2 separate regions of the Homo sapiens genome follow, and region 1 is linked to region 2. Evidence: fine-mapped expression QTL. A gene starts in region 2. The other region holds a variant in brackets. All regions are shown on one strand. Distances are from middle to middle.

Region 1 (8,000 bases), 75 kb after region 2:
AAGTGTGTCTCCTTCCCTCCATGTGATTCCTGCCCTTCCCTAGATTCTCTACCTGGCCAGTTTCTAACTGTCCTCCAATAGGCAGCACAGGTGTCCCCATCTCTAGGAAGCCTCTCCTGCCTGCAGTTTGGTTAGGGGCCCTTATCAGAGCACACACAGCTCCTTGTGCTTGCTCTGTTGCTACAGTAACCACACTGCCCACTCAGTTTCTTTCTTTGTTTTTTTTCCCTGAGACAGAGTTTTGCTCTTGTTGCCCAGGCTGGAGTGCAATGGCGCCAGCTCAGCTCACTGCAACCTCCGTCTCCCAGGTCAAAATGATTCTCTGCCTCAGCCTCTCAAGTAGCTGGGATTACAGGCATGCGCCACCATGCCCGGCTGATTTCTGTATTTTTAGTAGAGACGGGGTTTTGCCATGTTGGCCAGGCTGGTCTTGAACTCCTGACCTCAGGTGATCTGCCTGCCTCAAGCTCCCAAAGTGCTGGGATTACAGGCATGAGCCACCACGCCCGGCCCCCACTCAAGTTTCTTATCTGTCACTCTCCCCTAGACCTCTGCACAAGGCTTGGTAGACAGTGAATGCTTAGGGGTTCAGGGAGGGGCAGAATACTTGGGGTCTCTGGAGCTTGGAAGTGGGGCAGCAGTCACCATGGGCAGGTCCAGATTGGGATCTATGAGGTACTGATGCAAGCATGCTCTTCTCTGGAGGCCTGGTCGCTGCTCCACAGAGATGGAAGAGGAGGAGGAGGCTTCTCCCACACGCTGAGGACACTCTCTGCCAGACTGGGGCCTCTGTGGGGTCTCCCAGGATTAAGAACATCATACTGAGCAGACAGGCCCCATTTTAGGGGGCGGAAGCTGGCTTAGTGATGGAGCTATGCTTTCCCCAACCCATTCTTTATTCTTTATGATCTCCGAATTGCAGAAGCAGAAACTGCTCACCCTTGGTCTGAAGCTTTTCGTGACTTGTGCGAAGAAATGTCATCAACAGCCTTTTGTTTGAACTTGACTTGTGTGAATGTGCCAGGGGACTTGCTCAGAAGAGTCTTTTCAGATGTCATTTCTGTTTGTCTATAACCCTGGTCCATGCAAAGTCATTCACAAGCCAGTTTTTCTGAGGCTCCGGGGCTGTCATAGTCTCATTCTTGCCACAGCCCGCACAGCTACTGTGTGACTGCCTTCAGCCTGGAGTGGGTGCAGGGCTTCAGCCTCCCCACAGCCCCACACTTAGCAATGGTGTGTGCTGTGGCCAGGTCAGAGCCAGGCACTGAAATGCAGCTGTGAGGGAGTACCCAACCAAATCTCTCACTCTCAACTTGACTTGAATGTCTCTGAAACCCTGAGCTACAACTTCAATTTACTTCCCCCAGACAGTGAGCTGGGACCATGCCTGCGTTTTTTAAAACCATTTCCCCAGTGCCCACACAGTGCCCAGCACTTGATAAAAATGTATTACATGAGTGAACAGACAGATATGCAATATCCAGTTATTTGAGTCAACTGAGGGAGACCGTCAAACTCAATGTTTTGAAGGAAGAATAATCCAGAATTTAATATGTCCTTAGAGCCACTTTAGACTCTGTCCACTGTTTTTTTGAAACTGGGTCTCACACGGTCACCCAGGCTGGAGTGCAGTAGCATGATCACAGCTCATTGTAGCCTCAACCTCCCTGGCTCAAGCGATCCTCCTGCCTCAGCCTCCTGAATAGCTAGGGCTACAAGTGCACACCATTATGCTAATTAAATTTTTTTTTTTTTTTTTTTTTGGTAGAGACAGAGTCTCGCTATGTTTCCCAGGCTGGTTTCAAACTCCTGGGCTCAAGTGATCCTCCCGCCTCAGCCTCCCAAAGTGTTGGGATTACAAGTGTGAGCCACTGCGCCTGGCTCTGCCCACTGTTGATGCTGCTGGTGTTGGTCCTGGGAAGGAAGCCCAGAGTGCTGGGCCCAGCTGCACAGTGGGCCTGGACATGGCAGAACACCCAACTAGGTCAGTAGGACCCGCCGCTTCCATTTCCCTCCCCAAGCCCAAGCCAGCTGCAAGGAGTGTGGTGATAGGATAAAGGCAAGAGAAATGGGAGCTGTCCCCAGTTTAGTCAGTCACCAAGTGGTGATGGAGGGTAAGATAGAGGTAAAAATTAGACAAGGTCTCAGGAGGGAATTATAATGTGGTATACACAGAACTGTTACAGATAGAGGTGCACACAGAGCTGGGGGAGCTCCAGGGCAGGAAAAGCTTCACAGAGGAGGTGACATCTGAGCTGGAGTTTTAAAGGTGGAGAATGTGAGGACAGACACTCCAGACAGCACATGCATGTGGACAGCTGGCCAAGCTGAGTGCCTGCCTTGTCCAGGCCCCTTTGGAGGGGAGAGGCCTGCCACAAGCAGTTCTCTCAGCAGAGACTGCTGTGCTTGATGCCAGACAACGTTCAAGTTACTCACTGAAGTAAAAGCAGTAGTTGTCTCTCTTTTTTTTTTTTTTTTTTAAGACAGATTTTCGCTCTTGTTGCCCAGGCAGGAGTACAATGGCGTGATCTTGGCTCACCGCAACCTCCGCCTCCCGAGTTCAAGCGATTCTCCTGCCTCAGCCTCCCAAGTAGCTGGGATTACATGCATGTGCCAACACGCCCGGCTAATTTTGTATTTTTAGTAGAGACGGGGTTTCTCCATGTTGACCAGGCTGGTCTCGAACTCCTGACTTCAGGTGATCCGCCTGCCCTGGCCTCCCAAAGTGCCGGGATTACAGGCGTGAGCCACTGTGCCCGGCCAAAGCAGTAGTTCTTAAGGCAAAGAATATGGAGAAGCACTCCAGGTTGGGGGACTAGCAGGCACAGCACAAAGGCATAAAAGACTATGGGTTAGTAAGGCATTGGCATGTAGGGGTTACGGCACCAGGAAGCATCAGCTTAAATTATTAATTTAATTTATTAATTGAAGCATCAGCATAAGTTATGAGTCATCGGTTGCATCCTGTGTAGCTGGAGTTGCCAAAAGCCACATTTCCCAATATGTGGAAGTATTTCTGTATCAACAAATGCCAGTCACCTGGGTTTGTATGCAG[TCTATACAAGTCCTGACAGC/C]TCCACACCAAGACATATTACTGGAAGGTCTCCATGAGAGTTGAGGCAGTCAGAGCATAAAGACAGAACCACACTTACCACCCCAGACGAGGCACTCACTGCATGCCAGGCACCAGGACACACATGTCATGGACATTATTTAGTGTTATCCCCATAAATGCCCATGAGATGGGGGCTGTTATTCGCATTTTGCAGATAAGGAGGCTGATGTTTAACATGACTAAGGGCTTGTCCAAGGTTATACAGCTAGCAAAGTAGCAAAGTTGGGATTCTAACCCAGGTTTGCCTGATTTCAAAACCTAAGCTCTCTTCACTTGCCCAGACGGAGGCAGAGGAGCTCCCAGCTGTATTCCATCTTTGCTGAGAAAGCATGAAGGAGATGCTGTGAACCTGGCACAGGCACACAAGGTCAAGCCACAGGGATCGGTGAAACAGCGGTGAGGCCAGGTGGTAAAGATGTACCCCTCGTCCTCCGACCAGCCTCACCGCAGTGCCAACAGATGACAGTCTAAGTACAGTAAGACCACTTTTGCCTCAGCTCAAAAGCTTTCTACTTCCTGAACCTACCCTCAGAAAAGGTCTGAAATTAGGCCCAGTTACAGGCTGGAAAAAATGATCAACCTCTGGCTAGGGAGAACATGGTGACTGTAACCCACATAGCCTACATCCCTCCACTGCCCTCCCTTTCTGCATCTAGCACTCCAGGGGTTAGGGAAAGGGGCTCATGGCTAGACAGGAAGAGACCTGCTGCTCATGGAGGATGGCCCTTGGGATCCAGATGCATGGCAGAAATGGCCAGTCCTACCTTTCTTCCTTTAGCAAATGCTCCTCTGTGGAGTACCTGATGAGGACTGGAACAGAGATGGATAGAGCAAGGCTCACCCTTTGCTCCTGAACCTCACTCTACATGCAGCTGTGCCTTTGCCAACAGCTTTCCTTGGCCACGCTGGGGTCTCTGAACCCTGTGTTTCCTCTCAATAATCTGAGCGGTAGCAAAGGAATGCATCTCTATGAGAGTTAGCAACTTTCCTGGAGCAGGCCCACTGGAGACAGGGCTGCGTCAGGAGCCCAGGCCTCCTGGATGAGCTATCTTTCCCCACAGCCTTGAGTGTGGGTCACGGTTTGCTGTGCTCTACCCTACTGCCTCTTGCACTCTTCTTCATTTTGCCCCCAAAATGACTAGGCTACAGGCAGAACTGGCTAAACCAGAGGCAGCTGCTGACCATGTTTAAAAAGGTCATTGCTTTGGAGGAAGGATTCTTTCCATCAGGAGGCCCACATGGGCTCATGGGGCCTGATCCAACCAGTGGTCATTCTCCTTGCATACGCCCTCAGGGGTAGGGAGGGGCAGAAAGAAGCCCTTCAGGGGAAGGGACTTGGGTATCAGGGACCCCTGTGTGTGCAACAGCCACAGGGCAGGAAGAGAAGGGCACAGGAGCAGAGGCAGGGGGTTTGAGATGGTCAGAAGCGGCCTAAGGGTGAACATATAGCTGGCAGAGTCCTGCCCTTAATCCCTCTTGCTGGTCTTGAGGTACACATGAGGATGGGTGATGGAGACGGGGAATGTGGTGGAGACAGCCCTTAACCTGGCCAGAACCTCACTGATCATAGTCACCTTGGACACATGGGAGCAAGGCCAGTGGAGACAGCAGGTACAGAGCCAGCCCTCATCAGAGCTGGTTTCTGAGCTCAGGCCTCAAGCACATGCCTTGCCCCATTTGGAGGACTTGCTCCATTTGGGCATTTGCTTCTTAGAGCAAGTTCCGCAACTGGCAATTGGCCTGTGGCCCAGACACACTATCTGAAGGGGCTGAGCAGCAAAGCCAAAGGTGTCATTTTGTTTTTCCAATCATCTGGTTTTTTTTCTTTTTTTTTTGAGATGGAGTCTCACTCTGTCGCCCAGGCTGGAGTGCAATGGCGTGATCTCGGCTCACTGCAACCTTCGCCTCCCAGGTTCAAGCGATTCTCCTGCCTCAGCCTCCTGAGTAGCTGGGATTACAGGCATGCACCACCACACCAGGCTAATTTTGTATTTTTGGTAGAGATGGGGTTTCTCCATGTCGGTCAGGCTGGTCGCCACCGTGCCCAGCCCCAATCTTCTGTTTTCAAACTATGTTCGGAAGTTGTCCAGTGTAGGAAACTTCCGCATACTAAGCCCTTGAAACCGAGGGAGAGAGGATGGGTCTATCCCAACACAAGGGCCACAAAGATGTCACAGGGCCAGCTGTCAACAGGCCTTTTTTCGTGATGCTGCCAACTGTCAGGTGTGTGTTTCCCTGACCAGGAACTCCTGAGAACAGAGGCCACGTGGCCCAATACTCGCCACATCACCCTGGACAATCTCATCCACACTCTGGGGGCTGTGTATGGACCTACGTGCAATTTGTTTTCTTCCAGCCCAGACCTCTCTCCTGAGAGATTCACTGAACTCAGGCTCCCTGAGTAGGGCCGTGGCTTCCCTCTGACACTTCATTTGCCTGGATCTGGACTCTTTGCCTGCATCAGGGCAGAAGGCAGAGCCAAGGGCCCTCATCATGGCAGGCAGGCATAGACTCATGTCCTGCCTCCACAGTGGGGAGGCAAGGCTTCAGCCCTCCTTCTCCCCTCTAGCTCTGGCTATTTATTTGGGGAGACCAGTCAGAGAGTGACCTGTCTCCCCAGGTGCAGACAGAGTAGGGAAAGCAGGACACAGTCCTGAAGGTGCCAGCATCTTGCTCTCTGCTGAGCTGCTGCCTCATCGCTGGGACTTGTGTGGGTGGAGCTCAGACCTGGGCCCTCCCTCTCACTGAGGAACTCACAGGGCTGCTTGCTCCTGGCTGGGAGCCTCACACAGCTCAGGAGGAGGGCCAGGATCATGTTCTGTGCTTTCACCAGCTTTTGCTCTTCACAAGCAGCAAGAACTCCCCACGTGGGGATCTTGTACCTGAACCAAAAAAAGCAAAGCTGCTAATCTGACAAGATCAATCCTCAAATACCACAGGAATGCAGCCAGCCTGCCTGCTCTCACCAGGGACTGTGCTTCTAAGCATCCCTACAGTTCCTGCTCCTAGGCTGGAGCCTGGAACTGGTCTGCAAAGGAGGAAGCTGCCCCCACCAGTGTGTCTGGTCTTGCTGCCGAAGCCCCACCTTTCCCAGCATAGTTCAGGCATCAGACTTCACCAGGACGTCTCCCCAGTCAATCTCTCATCACTCCTCCAGCTGAAGGGCCTTCTCTGTGTCCCCACAATCCTCTGTCTTCACCTCTGGCGGAGCACATATGCCTGGATATGTTTTTGTCTCCATGCACCATTTCTCTTAGCTCTGGGGAAGATAGGTACAGATGAGGAAGGTGAGGCTCAGAAAGGTTGAGCAACCCAGCCCTATTCACTTCAAAAACCTGTTCTTTCCACTGTAGTCCGACACTTCTCAAACCATCTGTGAAGAGGGATCGGTTGGTTTTGCTTTTTAAATTTCTATTTTGTCACAGAATGATGATTTTATAAAATAGAATAAAAATGAATCACTAGAAAAGTTAAATAAGGCCAGGCGTGGTGGCTCACGCCTGTAATCCCAGCACTTTGGGAGGCTGAGGCAGGTGGATCACCTGAGGTCAGGAGTTCGAGACCAGCCTGGCCATCATGGTGAAACCCCGCTTCTACTAAAGATACAAAAATTAGCTGGACATAGTGGCGGGCACCTGTAATCCTAGCTACTTGGGAGGCTGAGACAGGAGAATCTCTTAAACCTGGGAGGTGGAGGTTGCAGTGAGCCAAAATCACACCATTGCACTCCAGCCTGGGCGACAGAGCAAGACTCCGAGGAAGGAAGGAAGGAAGGAAGGAAGGAAGGAAGGAAGGAAGGAAGGAAGGGAGGGAGGAAGGAAAGAAAGAAGGAAGGAAAGGAAGGAAGGGAGGGAGGGAGGGAAGGAGGAGGGAAGGAAGGAAGGAAGGAAGAGGGAAGGAAGGAAGGAAGGAAGGAAGGAAGGAGGGAAATACACATATAAAATATAAGCTCCATTTTTAAAAGTTTGGTTTTTTTGGGTTTTTTTTGGTAACAAATAGCTGAGACCACAGGTGCATGCCACTGTGCCAGGCCTATTTTTTATTTATTAGATTCAGCAACATAAACTTACTCTAATTGCCATAAATGTTTTCAAAAACCTTATTTCCAGTATCTCAAAAATCTTGTGGCAGACCAGTTCATATCACTTTTGATTCTATAGCACACAACAGGTTCCAAACTGCCTTTTGCCTGTCTGGGACATTCTACCAAGGCTTTGCCTGTCATTCACCTTCCAGTAGAAGTTAGAAAGGGATAAGATGTAGCTCCTCAGGTCCTGTCCTGGGGTAGGAGAAACAATGTACTCTGACACCATCAGAAACAGTTAGCAGGTTGAGGCCTAGAACTTCTCCTACAGCTGATGGATTTATAACCAGCTAGGTCTGCAGGATTCACCTTTGCAAGCAAGTGTGGGTCCCTAATCATCTGAGAAGGAGATCTAAAAAAAAAAAATCCCACAACTTCTGGATGTCTACCGCAGCTCCACCTATGAGAATTGGAAGATAGAGCAAAGAGGAAAGAGACGGGGTATACCATTATAGGGAACTGGCAGGCTAAATTCCTTGAATAATGGAGGAGGCAGTAAGCTCAGACAAGATGTGGAATTAATTTAAAAGCAGAACATGGATTAGTTCCCAGAGGAGGTCCCAACACCTGACGCTAAGGAATATATGAAAAAAAATTGGTGGGCAGAGAAAAGGAGAGGACACAAATGGCAATTCTTCCAGCTGTAAGCTGGAGTCCAGGTCATGGACAGGCATTGAGGTTGTCTAGCCCATGCAGGCTACTCTTAGACACTCTGCAGAGAAGCTTTAGTTATAGAGCACTCTGCTCTTCCCAGAAAGGTCTGTACCCAAGGATTTCAACACAGCAGGTACCTACTGAAAA
Region 2 (11,743 bases):
ATGTGGGAGGATCTCTTGAACTCAGGAGTTCGAGACCAGCCTGGGTAACATAGCAAGAGCCCATCTCTACCAAAAAAATAAAAATTAAAAAAATTTAAAAATTAGCCAGTCGTGGTAGAATGCACCTGTAGTCTTAGCTAGTTAGGAGGCTAAGGTGAGAGGATCGCTTGAGCCCAGGAGGTGGAGGTTGCAGTGAACTGAGATCACACCACTGCACTCCAGCCCGAGGGACACAGCAAGACCCTATCTAAAAAAAAAAAAGGTGTATTTATTGTTTACCTTAAATCCATTTTTTTTTTTGAGACAGAGTCTCACTTTGTCGCCAGGCTAGAGTGCAGTGGCACAATCTTGGCTCACTGCAACCTCTGCCTCCCGGGTTCAAGCGATTCTCCTGCCTCAGCCTCCCAAGTAGCTGGGACTACAGGTGCGTGCCACCACGCCCAGCTAATTTTTATATTTTTAGTAGAGACCGGGTTTTACCATGTTGGCTAGGGTGGTCTCACTCTCTTGACCTCATGATCCGCCCACCTCAGCCTCCCAAAGTGCTGGGATTACAGGCATGAGTCACCACGCAGGGCCTGAAATCCAAATTTAACAGGATGTCTTTTACTTTTATTTGCTACCCTACCCCTACTTCCATCTCCAAGTATAGTTTCCTTGATGGCAAAACATGTTTCTCACTGGTCTCTGAATCCCTGAAACTAGCCCAGTGCACGACAGTTCATGCTCGGTTAATATGAAGAGAAGGCAACTTATCTGGCTGCAGCGCTGAGAATGGTTGGAGGGAGTTGTGACTGGAGACAGTGAGACCAGGTAGGAGGATGAGGAATAAACCATCCAAAAAATTATGAAGGCTTCAGCAGAATAGCACTGGGGATAGGGAAAGGGGATGGATCTGCAGGATCTAAGGATTTGGTGACCAATGCTTAAGGGACATGACAGAGCTTAAGGAGCCTAGGAGATTGCCCAAGTTTCTGGCTGTGTCACTGGATGAGGTTGGTGCACTCACTGAGCAGGGAACACTGGGGAGGGTCTGGAAGCTGGACAGCAGGGAAGCTCATTGATGTGAGGAGCAGAGCAGGCTGGAGAAGGGTGGACAGCAGATCTGAAGGAGGAAACGGAAGACATCCAGTATGGATATGTTAAGCTTGATGTCTCCCAGGATATACAGATAGAGGTATTGGAATTACAGACTTGGGGCTCAGGTGAATGTTCTAGGCTGGAGATAAAATGTGAGCATGGTTAGCATGGAGGTGGTAACTGAAACCACGGGAGTAGACAGTGCTGCTCAGGGAGAGAGTAGAATGGGAAGAGGAGAGAGAGTCGGTATCAGAGCTCTGAGGAACATGAGAGGCAGAGAGAGGAAGAGGAACTCAGAAGTCGTCTGAGAACAAGCCTCTGGAGGAGTGGAAGGAGAACCCGGAGAGTATTGGACCAAGAGAGTCACGGGAAGACAGGTTTTCAAGGAGGACTGACACTATCGAATGCTTCTGAGACTTCAAAGGACTAAATGGCCTTTGGCTTTAGTATTGACCAGAGTCACCTGTGGCCCCAGGAGCTACAATGTGCCACCTGGTGACAGGTTATAGCTACTATGTGGTAAACAGAGGTACAGCTCTGCAGCCTGTTTCCTTTGGGGAAAACAACCTTTTCTTTCTTGCTTGCTTCTTGCTTTCTCTCTCTCTTTCCCCTTCCTTCCTTCCCTCTCTCCCTCCCTCCCCCTCCCTCCCTCCCCTCCTTCCCTCCCTCCCCTCCCTCCCTCCCTCCCCTCCTTCCTTCCCTCCCCTCCTTCCCTCCTTCACTGTCTTCCTTTTGATTTGGGTTGTCCTGAGTTGCAAACTGAGGCTAATTCATATGGGAATGTGTTCTTGGAGCTGTTGCTGTCTTGTTCCGGACTCTGAGATGTTGAGCACAAGCTGTCTGGGGCCCAGAATGCAGCCTCCAGCTGGGGTGAGCCCTGTTCCCTCAAAAGCTGGCAGCCTGGGGAATGTTGACAGCCAGCACCTTTGGCTTGGGCTGTGGCCCTCTCACTGTGAGCATTGTCAGAGATGGCTTCAGTCAGTCTCCTTTACTGGCTCTGGAGCAGCCGTGTCTACTGAGTGGCAGGGTTTGGGGACTAGGCTAGGCTTTAAAGTCTCACTAGCAGGGGGCTGCCTGGCCCCAATAACCCTGGAATTGACAGAATGTCCTTCTCTGCCTGCAGCCAGCCCTCTGTAAACTGTATGGCCCTGGGGCCATTTTCTTTGCAGGAGGGAAGGTGGAACTAAGGATCCCGAATCCGTTTGGAGGCAGAGAGGGGCCAACAGGGTGTTTGAAGGGAGCAAAGGCATCGAAATTTTTGGAGCATCTAGAACTGGGGCAGTGAATGCAGAAGAGTGGGAGCACACACACGTTTCTCCTCCTTGACCCAGAATGGGCACAGCCTTCAGAGAGCTCTTGCCAGCTCCTCACTCTAGCCTGGGTGAAGGGGGCATCTGTGCCAAAGCAGGAAGGCACACAGGCGGATTGGAAGGAATTTCTCTCAGCAGCGTCAAATGCCTGAGGGATCTCGCCCTCGACCCTCTCCATCTCTCATGGTACTCTCATTCACCCCCGGCTGCAGCTCCTGCCTCTGTGCTGACAGCTGTCACATCAATCCAGCCCAGACCTCCCTCGGCAGCTCTAGACCAGCAGATCCCACTGCCTCCTGACAACCCCTCTGGATGTCCCACAGTTCCTCAGACTTAGCATCCTTTCCAAATCCATGCCCCCATCTCATTTCCAAAAAAGAAAAATCATAGAGGCCTCCCCAATACAAATGCATAGGACATGGGAAACAAGGTTTGAAAGGATATCCAGAAAAGCTTAGGGATAGCCCTGGCCTTTTGGAGGTGACTTGGGGGTGGTATGAGAGGCCAGAGTCAGCAGTAACTTCTCCTTTCTTCCCCACGAAGGTGTGGACTTCTTAGCTTCCTGTCCTTTTCGTACCATTTGCCAAATTGAATTTAAATAATTATTACTGTAATTGCTTACTTATTGTCTGTCTCTCCTGGTTGAAGCTTCTCAAGGGCAGGGATCATGTCTGTTTCACTTCTGTATCCTTGGCATCTGTCATATAATCAGTATCTGACATATAATAGGTGCTTAATAAATATTTGTTTGAATTAATGAATATCCTTGTTCATCACCCAAGATGCAGATCCTGCTGGGGCCCTTATCTTTTCCTGCCTCCTTATCCACATGGAGCTCTGTGCTTTGCTCACCGGAGCCAGCACCCCACCGCACCCTCTACCAACCCTCGGTTTTTTTCAGATGCCCTCATGCCCTGGGCTGCTTCATGGAATGTGGATAGTGAGTTAACCATGCTGGCCTGTCTGCAAGCAGAGGCATGTGTATATCTGACAAGGCACCCTCAAGACAATTCCCTGGATGGTAAGACACTGATCAATGACAGTGGGGTGGGGCAATGGGTGCTTCTCTGTGTCTTTACCCACTAAGCGGGGGCCACAAAGATGCCAGAGGTCACAGAGACAGGGCTTTCTCCACAGAAGCCTCTGTAGTCTCTTTCCCCAGAGGTAAGCCCAGGCCCAAGTGAGCAGCCTGCCAGGACTAGTGACTGCACCCTTGCTGCCCGCCCTGCCCCTGCCTGTGTTCCATGCCTCCCATCCCGGAGCTGCTGGGTGGGGGCCGAAGATCCAGGCCAGGTCTGTGATTGCTGAGTCAGCCTGAGGTGTGTGAGTGCGATCAGCAAGGCATGATCTCCATCCAGCCTCTTCTTCCCAACCCCCTGCTGCCCAGGAAAGGATCTGACAAGCCACAGAAGTAAATAAATAACTTAGAAATAATAAATAGGGGCCAGCTCCCATGAGTGAGTACAGGCCAGTTCCAGCACAGGCACTTTCAACCAAGCAACTGCAATATGTGTCCTTCAAATGCTGTCCCTACAGGGCCTGGGCGGGGGCTGATGCCTCAGCCACTGTAGTGTTCATCAGAGGAGGGGTCCCAGGTTCGAGGCCTGGCCAGTGCCAGAGTCTGTGAGAAGTGGGTCCGAAGGGCTCCATAGCTGAGGTCTCTGGTGTCTTTTAGGCTGGGATCCGCAGGGTGAGGGCTCTGGGGCTGCTAGTCAGTTGTCCCTTCACCTGTTCGGGGATGATATCCATCACCCACCGGCAGGGGCCTCTCAGCTTTGAGGCCTTCGTCCCTGGCTGAGGCCGCTGGCTAGTGGGACTCTGCGGGAGGGTCCCAGGCAGGAAGAGCCACCGGTAAGGGTCCAGTCTGCAAAGCCCTGGAGCGAGCCCTCAGCCCAGGCAGCCGCAGGCGGTGGCGGAGAGGCGGTCCACGGTTCTCCAGGTGCTGTTGACGTCCATGAAGGAGACCGCTTCGTAGCGCGTGGGTCGGCAGCAGGGCTGGCTGACGGGCCGGGAGCCCGGGGGCGGTCGCAGGGCCCCGGCGCCCAGTAGGCTGGCCAGGCTGAGGTCGTGTGGAGAGCGCGCGCGGCGGCAGGAGCCGCTGCAGAAGCGGAAACGCACCAGCTCGTCGGAGCGGTGGCCCAGGCCGAGCGCGCGCACCGGCACCAGCTGCGAGCGCAGGCGGCAGCCCCGCGCCCCCGCTGCCCGAGCGCGGCTGCCCGGGCCCCCAGCCCGCGCCGCGCGGCCCCCGCGGGGAAGAGCAGATGGGGGTGCAGGCGGCGGGGGCGCGGGCCGAGAAGGCTGCGGCGGCGGCCGCCGGGCTCTTCCACTGCACCAGCGGGCCGTGCGTCCCCCTGGAATGAGACCCAGTCACGCGCGGTGTCCCGGGCCAGCCCCGCCCCGCCCCCTCGCCCTCTCACCTACCCGGCAGGTGGCCGGCGGGGGACGCCAGGACAGGCGGGGGGCCTTCGCGGGGGGCAGGGCTGCGGGGCGCGGAGCCCAGGGAGGCCTCTGCGACGCTGCTCAGCAGAGCCAGAGCGGCCAGGGTGGGCCACAGGGCAGGCTGCGCGGAGAGACCAAGTGGAGCCTCAGGGAGAAAGAGGGCACCCAGGTGGGCTTGGGGAGGAAGGACCTCAAGGAGGGGCTGTCCTCGGGCTGAGATCAGGCCGGGCATGGGCTCCTAGCTGTGTGGAGGGGAAACTCAGGAAGGGCCTAGGTTCCAGTATAATGGGTTTGCTGCCTCTGGGAGCCCAGGGGAGGAATCACCTGAGTGCACCGACCATTCAGAGAAGTCCCGCTCCTCCTCCCATTCACCTGGTCCCTCCCTGACCATTTTCCCTCCCACACCTAACCGCTGCCCAAGCCAAGCCCTGCTCTCCCTCACCAGTCAAGCCGCCTTTCCTCAGTACCAGGTAGGAGTCACTGGGAGAACCACTCACCTGCTGCCTAGGCCAGGGGCAGTGGGACAGCGTGGAGAGGCCTCCAAGTCCAAGTTCCATCTCTATCAACACCAGGAGCGCCCATCAGCCATTGTTGAGCTGTTCCCCCACCCTCCTGTTGAGGCAGCTTGCAAATTAAGAGATGAGTTATCTTTTGTGGGGGACCGGCCTGCCACCCCAGTTTCTCCAGGTGAGGAACAAGGGGCCTACACAGCTAGACTCAACCCAGCAGAAGTAGCTGCACTGGGAACCTTACTATGTGTTAGGTGCTTTGCAGCTATTCTTTCACAACTCCATGAGGTAAATGGTTTAATCCCCTTTTTCCAGATGAGCAAACAAGGCTCAGAGAAGCTCAGAGGTTGTCTAAGGTTACAAGGTCACACAGCTGGAGGGGAGAGAGGGGTCCTCTTTTCCCAGAACCTTCCTGCTCTGCGTTGTAGGTCTGGAGATGCCAGAAGTGGCTGGAAGGAGTTATAGCTGGACACACTTGGTCCTACAGAGGCCTTCACCCCAGGCTGCCGGAGAGGAAGCTGAGGGCTGGAGAAGAATTAGGGTGCTAGCTGGTCACTCTAAGAGTTATCTAATGATAGTGAGCCCCAAGCCTCAGCCTGTGCTGCCCACCCAGAGCTGCTTCACCTCGCCCCTCTGTGAACTGTGTTCTGGACCCAGAGCCACCTGAGTTCTCTCCTCTGACTATAGGTGTCCCTCGATGACCACAGAGCCGGGGGATGGTGGGAGCTAATGGGCCCTCTGAAAACATGGGGCCTGGGTCATGGCTTCCTGTGGCCACAAGGGGGCAGAGTCTGCCAAGCCTGCAGATTCCAAGCAGGGTGGGCTTTTCCATCCCCTCAGCTACACTCAGGCCTGAGCCACTCCCAGGAGGGCCAGCTAGGCTTCCATACCAGCCTGGTCTCTGAGAGCTGAGCCACCCTGGGAGCTGGTCTAGGTCTGTCCCCCTCCCAGCCTCCTATGGATCTGGCAGCCTAGTCATGCTCCTAGAAGTTTCCCCCTTGAGCCATCGTTCCTGATCCCAGCCAGCCTTCCTGAGCTCCCACTGCTAGCACTCCCAAACACCCTTTTGGGGCCCTAGAGCCTTCGTAAGTCCTCATTAGCCAGCCTCCTCTTGGGTCCCAGCTACCACCCTCATCCCCATCCTTTAGCACACAGAATGCCTGCACACCTGTGGAACAGACCCCCAGGCCTTCCCGGGGTTGTCCTCCAGGTCCTGGTGTGTGCCTCTTGGCTAAGTGGAATCAAGGCCTCCGAGCCAGGCCAGTGACTGTTGTCCGTGATGGAGGGAAAGGCAGGCAGGGCAGCCTTAGGAGCCCTCTGCGCTAGGGGGAGCCCGGGAGCAGGTCTCTTGAGGGCAGCTCAGGCCCTGCCTCCTACCTCCTTGTGGTCTAGGGCCATTTGGTTCTCTGGCCCTTGCCTCCCCATCCACCAGCCCGCTACTCACCACGGGGTCCTGCACCTTGTTCTTCTAGGCACCTTTCCGGGGACCAGTGCTGGGCTCTCCCCCGAAGCTCAAACAGCGCATGCCCAGGACTGTACACCTGGCAGTGCCTCTTTTAGCCAAAAGTGTGGCCTTGGCAGCCAGTCTGCACCCTGTAGCGGCAGCGGGAGCCTCACATTACAGTGGGCCGGCAAGGCCAGCACAGTCCAACAAGCGACAAGAGGGACTGAGGGGCTGGGAGGGGCGGAGAACTGTGCCGAGGGCCCAAGAGAGGGAGGATGCAAGAAAGGAGAGGAGGGGGGTGGTCCTGTCCTCTCCCCCAGCCCAAGAGCGTCCATCCAGGGCTGGGACCAGAAACAGGCAAGTGGGCTGGCTTACCTCGGGTGTGGGGCTCCAGGCCCGGGTGGCAGCGAGGGCTGGGGCCCGAGGGACCTGCTGCTGGCGGAGCCCCCGGGCCTTGTCTGGGGGCCGGGCCCAACTCCATCCCTCAGCAGCCTCCTGCCCGCCGCCGCAGCCGTCCGGTGTCAAATTCCAGCCCCAGCGTCACCAGATCCCGGGGTGGGGCTGGGAGCGCCCCTGCCCCGCCCCACCTTTCGGGGCTCACCTGGCTGCTCCACCCGTCGGATCCAGTCCCCCCTAGCTTGGCTAGGTCCCCCGAGGTTGGGAGGGGGGTAGATGCTGGGAGGGGCCCCTCGGATATGGAGAGTAGAGAACTCGAGCGGTGGAGAGGCACGGAAACCGGGAGTTGAGTTTGTAGACTCGCGAAGTAGAGAGCTGGGAGGCCGGGCCGAGGGCGGGAGAAAGTGAGTGAGGGCGGGGAGCGAGGGGTAAGCCGGTCCCTGCGTGGGGCGGCTGACTGCTGGTACGTGCAGATTTGGGGGTCCGGCTGTCTGCCCTGCAGCAGCTGCTCTCTGCTCCACCCGATTCTTCTCTCAGCGGCCAGTTCACCTGCCTTGTTGGGTTGCTTAGCCTCTGCGCAGCTTTCAGGATCTGACTCTGCTCTAGTCTCCCCACAGCTCACCTCCTGTGCTGCTTAGGGCTTGGAGTACGGACACACTTGCAAACACGGGAGTCACTGGGGCACAGCAGGGGCAGTGTTGGCAGAAGTGGGTACTGAGGGCTGAAGGCAGGGGTCACAGAGGAGGAACATCTGAGCTGAGTCTTGAAGTAGGTAGCTGGAGGGCAGCATTTCAGATGCCTAATTATGGCAATTTGGCAGGTGGGTTGAGGGCTGGGTGAGTAACATGGATGGAAAGATCCTAACACTGGGGACCATGGGAGGGTTTTGAGCAGAATGGTGTAATCAGACAGGCATTTTTTGTGGATGACTCTGGCTGTAGTAAAGAGGATGGGGTTGGAGAGAAAGGTGGAGGCTGCTGTGGAAAGAGGATGAGGTCTGATGCAGGGCATGAGGGGAGCGTGGGGCTGCCAGGCCCCAATCTGGAACACGCAATTTTGAAAATTCATTAGTGCCTGACTGGATAGGGTGAGGAGGTAGGTAGACCCTGCAAAAGTGTGCCTTTGGCGGGGTGACCTGGGGGAGGGGTACATCCCGGCTCCTGGGAGGAAAGGCAGGGGCTCATGAGTTCGGTGTTGGACATGTTGAGTTGGAAGGGCCTGTGGATTATCCAAGTGGAAATGTTCAGGAAGCCGGTGAATTTGTAGCCTGGAAGGAAGCAGAGAGAGCTGCGCTGGCAAAGGCAATTTGGGAATTGTCAACCAACTGGCAATTGGAAGCTGTGGTCAGGGATGAGAGTGCTGGGGATGTGTGTGGACCAGCTGTACCCTGGCTATGCTTCTGAACCACTAGGGACCTTTAAAAACTACCCACATCCGGGCCTCAACCCAGACCCAAATCAGACTTTCAGGGTGGACATGTGCAGTTTTCAAATTGCACAGGTGATTCTGGTGCATGGCCAGGGCTCAGAACCATAGCTGGTGTGAAAGTAGTTTTCCGCGGTGGTGAGGACTAGAAGTCAGACCACAGAGAACTGCTGCTGGAGGTGGTGGGGCTGCTGCAGGCGTGCCAGGAGCCCCCTGGGATAGGAGGCCAAGCAGGGAGCAGTCTGCTCTGTCACCTCCCACAACCGGCTGCTCAGTTGGGGCACCTGCCTTGGGGCTTTTTCAGCCAGGGACACCACTTATGGCCATTCAGCCTATGCCCTGTACAACTCCACGGGGCACCATCCAGGCAGGAACATGTGCATGGTAGTGGCCTTATTTCCGGTAGAAATGGAGGGGGTTTCTGGGTTGACCTGTCCCTCAGTCAGGGCCTCCCTTACCCCCCTAGCCCAGGAGGCTTCTGCCTAAGGCCGGCCACAGTGGGAAGGAGCATGTGGGAGGCTGCTGGTCCCTGGGATGGCCGGGACTCCAGCCTTAGGGCTCACCAGTGGGAGGGCAGCCCAGGGCTGCCTGGAGTCTTGGATTGGGGTGGGCAGGAGAGAGGAGCAGGAGCCGGCCACCCCACTTACTGCCTGCCACAGTGGCAGTGTGTGACAGAAAGCTCACTTCATGGCCTCAAGTGCAGGCGACAGTCTGGTCTGTCCATTCTCAGGCCTGCCTGGGGATGCTGGGGAAGAGAGGGATCAGACTCTAGGACTCTTAAGAAGGCGACGTGATATCTTTTCTAAAGTATGACAGAGGATACCTAGAGCAGGGCTGAAGGGAGAGGGTGTGCCTCTGTGCTAATGATTGGGGCTGGGGCATGTCCTTCCCAGAGGGACGGGAGTGTCAGTAGTAGGGTAGGTCTGTGAGCCTCTGCTTGCTGCAGGGGCTCAGCAGTATATCTTTCCTGTGCTTGCAGGAATATCTGTCCTTCCAGAGGTGGGGCTGTGGCACCCCAAGGCAATGTCCTAGGGCTCCAGTCCTGTGCCTCTGTCTCCTCTAAGAGTGTGCCCTGAAACCTCTGGTCTCAAAGCAAAGAGGATACAGGAGATGCTCCAGAGGCCTCTGGATGGCTACCTAGGTCCTGCATTGACACAAGAAGTGAAAGGGACCCAGGACTCTGTGGACTGGAGAGAGGGCCCGAGGGTTTGGCATAGTTGCTAAGGCTTTAGGTTCCTGTTTCTTCCAGGAAAGTCAGAGAAGGCAAAAAGAGGCCAGGCTCAGGGAAGAGCTTTATTGCTTCCATGGGGGTGGCCTGGGACGGCTGCCACAGCTTGGGTAAGCTCCTTGGGCCTCACTTCCCTTTGGTCCAGGCTAAAGGCAGAACCCAACCACCTGGCAGTCTTGTTGCTGAAACCTAGAACATGTGGCAAGTTGGTGAGTCCGGGCCTGCGGTAGTCCTATGGATCAGCTGCAGCTGTGGAGGGGAGCTCTTCCCAGCAGGCGGAGCTGGGCGTCACCCTCCTGAGCTTTAAAGTTCTTTCTGCTATAGCCCTGGGGCGGTCTTGTTGGCTCCGAAGGGATGGCTCCAGGGTTTCCCCATGGGACAGCTAGGGCTGGTGAGTGGGAATACCCCGCCTTCTCCCCAAGAAAGGCCAAACAGTGTCATGAGCTGGAGGGGGCTGGCTTGAGATCCTGCCCACCATCCTGTAGCCCCACAGCAAGGTACAGGCTGGTCCTGGCACTCCTGCCCCACAGGGAGCTAACAGGTAACACTGCCTGATGGGCCCTCTAGTGGGCCTCTTCCTGCATGGCAAGTGAACCCAACTTGACATCTCCAACCTTATTTAAAAATAAATTATCCCTACCCTCCCCCCTACCCAAATTCACAAAATGATAATACACCAAACACTGATTGGAGAAGTGATTCCGGCAGCAGCCTTGCTGCCCAGTGTCCCACCACCTGCATGCTGGGCCTGCTGGGCACAGCCAGGAGCCTGCTGGCCCTCTGGCATCAAGGACCCATGCTGAATGAGGCTGAGTGCTGGTCTCTGAGACTGGCTGCTGAGCAGGCACAGCTCTGGCTGCTCCACCAAGGCCTTGCTGCCCCTGGGGCCCTTGGCACCGTCCTTCTCTGGGTCTGAAGACTCCTGTGTAGGTGGTGCTGGCTGCTGCTCCTGGTGGTGCCTGGGCCTCTATGGCCATGTGCTGGGCCCACTCAGATGCCACTGCTTAGATCAGTGATGACGCGAGCTTTCACCAGCTTCCGCAGAAACTCTTTCTCTCGCTGGATATTGTGCGTCCAGGACTGAAAGGAGAGATGAAGTGATCAGTTGGGCCTTTGCTCAAACCTTTACTGCCCCTTCCAGGGCTCGGTGCCTTCTTCGTCACCACTCTCCAATACTCCGTGACTGTGGAAACCTGAAGGCAGATACTGGTAATCAGTTGTGTCTACACGGTAATGATGACCCTGCTCTAGGAGTGCCACAGCTCATCCTCCTCCCTTCCCAAGACAGGGAAAAAAGAACCTTCATACCCCTTTCCTCGTCCCAGGAAAACCGTTAAGCTTCCCAACCTCCCTCCTCAGTGCTGGCGGAAGGACCTTGTTCCCACAGACTTCAAGCCACTTCTTGTCATGAAGCACCTAGGTTATAGACACCCTGCGGGCAGGCAGTGTGAGTCACTGAAGTCCAACAGCAAGGGGTGGCTGAGTCACTCCCTGGCCTGATGCAATCTACTCTCCAGGCCTGGGGGCGGCGGATGAAATCCTGCCTCCCAGATCAGAGGAGCTATGGGGCCTGCGGAGAGATGGCAAATCTTTTTTAGAAAATTAAAAATAGGCCAGGCGCGGTGGCTCACGCCTGTAATCCCAGCACTTTGGGAGGCCGAGGCGGGTGGATCACGAGGTCAGGAGTTCAAACCAGCCTGACCAACATGGTGAAACCCTGTTTCTACTAAAAATACAAAAATTAGCTGGGTGTGATGGTAGCGCCTATAATCCCAGCTACTCAGGAGGCTGAGGCAGGAGAATCGCTTGAACCCGGGAGGCAGAGGTTGCAGTGAGCCGAGATCGCGCCACTGCACTCCAGCCTGGGCAACAGAGAGAGATTCTGTCTCAAAAAAAAAAAATAATAATTAAA

Which allele goes with the higher level. Alleles are on the strand shown, and positions count from the first base shown. SD is a standard deviation of normalised expression in the study named.
For the expression in sun-exposed skin of the gene that starts at base 7,242 in region 2, allele C in region 1 goes with a lower level than allele TCTATACAAGTCCTGACAGC (small effect, 0.38 SD a copy in GTEx).

Evidence for each region.
Region 1: its variant is fine-mapped to the expression of ARTN in sun-exposed skin (GTEx, PIP above 0.99).

Annotation. Positions count from the first base shown.
Region 1 is chr1:43,856,509-43,864,508 of GRCh38, reverse strand. All of the region lies in intron 5 of ST3GAL3 (ST3 beta-galactoside alpha-2,3-sialyltransferase 3), which reads right to left. Among named protein-coding and RNA genes, the nearest start is that of MIR6079, 22 kb to the right of the region's middle. RefSeq lists an enhancer at 5,771-6,389. The variant TCTATACAAGTCCTGACAGC/C (reference allele first, on the strand shown) is at 3,056.
Region 2 is chr1:43,929,300-43,941,042 of GRCh38, reverse strand. ARTN (artemin) reads right to left here and starts at 7,242. Exons shown (of 5, transcript NM_057091.3): 1 at 7,158-7,242; 2 at 6,783-6,931; 3 at 5,327-5,453; 4 at 4,812-4,950; 5 at 3,803-4,741. The coding sequence starts at 5,386. The coding sequence ends at 4,278. It overlaps ST3GAL3 (ST3 beta-galactoside alpha-2,3-sialyltransferase 3), which reads right to left. Exons shown (of 12, transcript NM_006279.5): 12 at 9,884-10,911. The coding sequence ends at 10,822. It overlaps LINC02918 (long intergenic non-protein coding RNA 2918), which reads left to right and starts at 502. Exons shown (of 2, transcript XR_947283.2): 1 at 502-813; 2 at 2,250-3,147. RefSeq lists silencers at 4,218-4,407, 4,528-4,577, 6,601-6,650, 7,201-7,290 and enhancers at 4,522-5,116, 5,117-5,711, 7,801-7,850, 8,480-8,980, 10,166-10,225 and 1 more.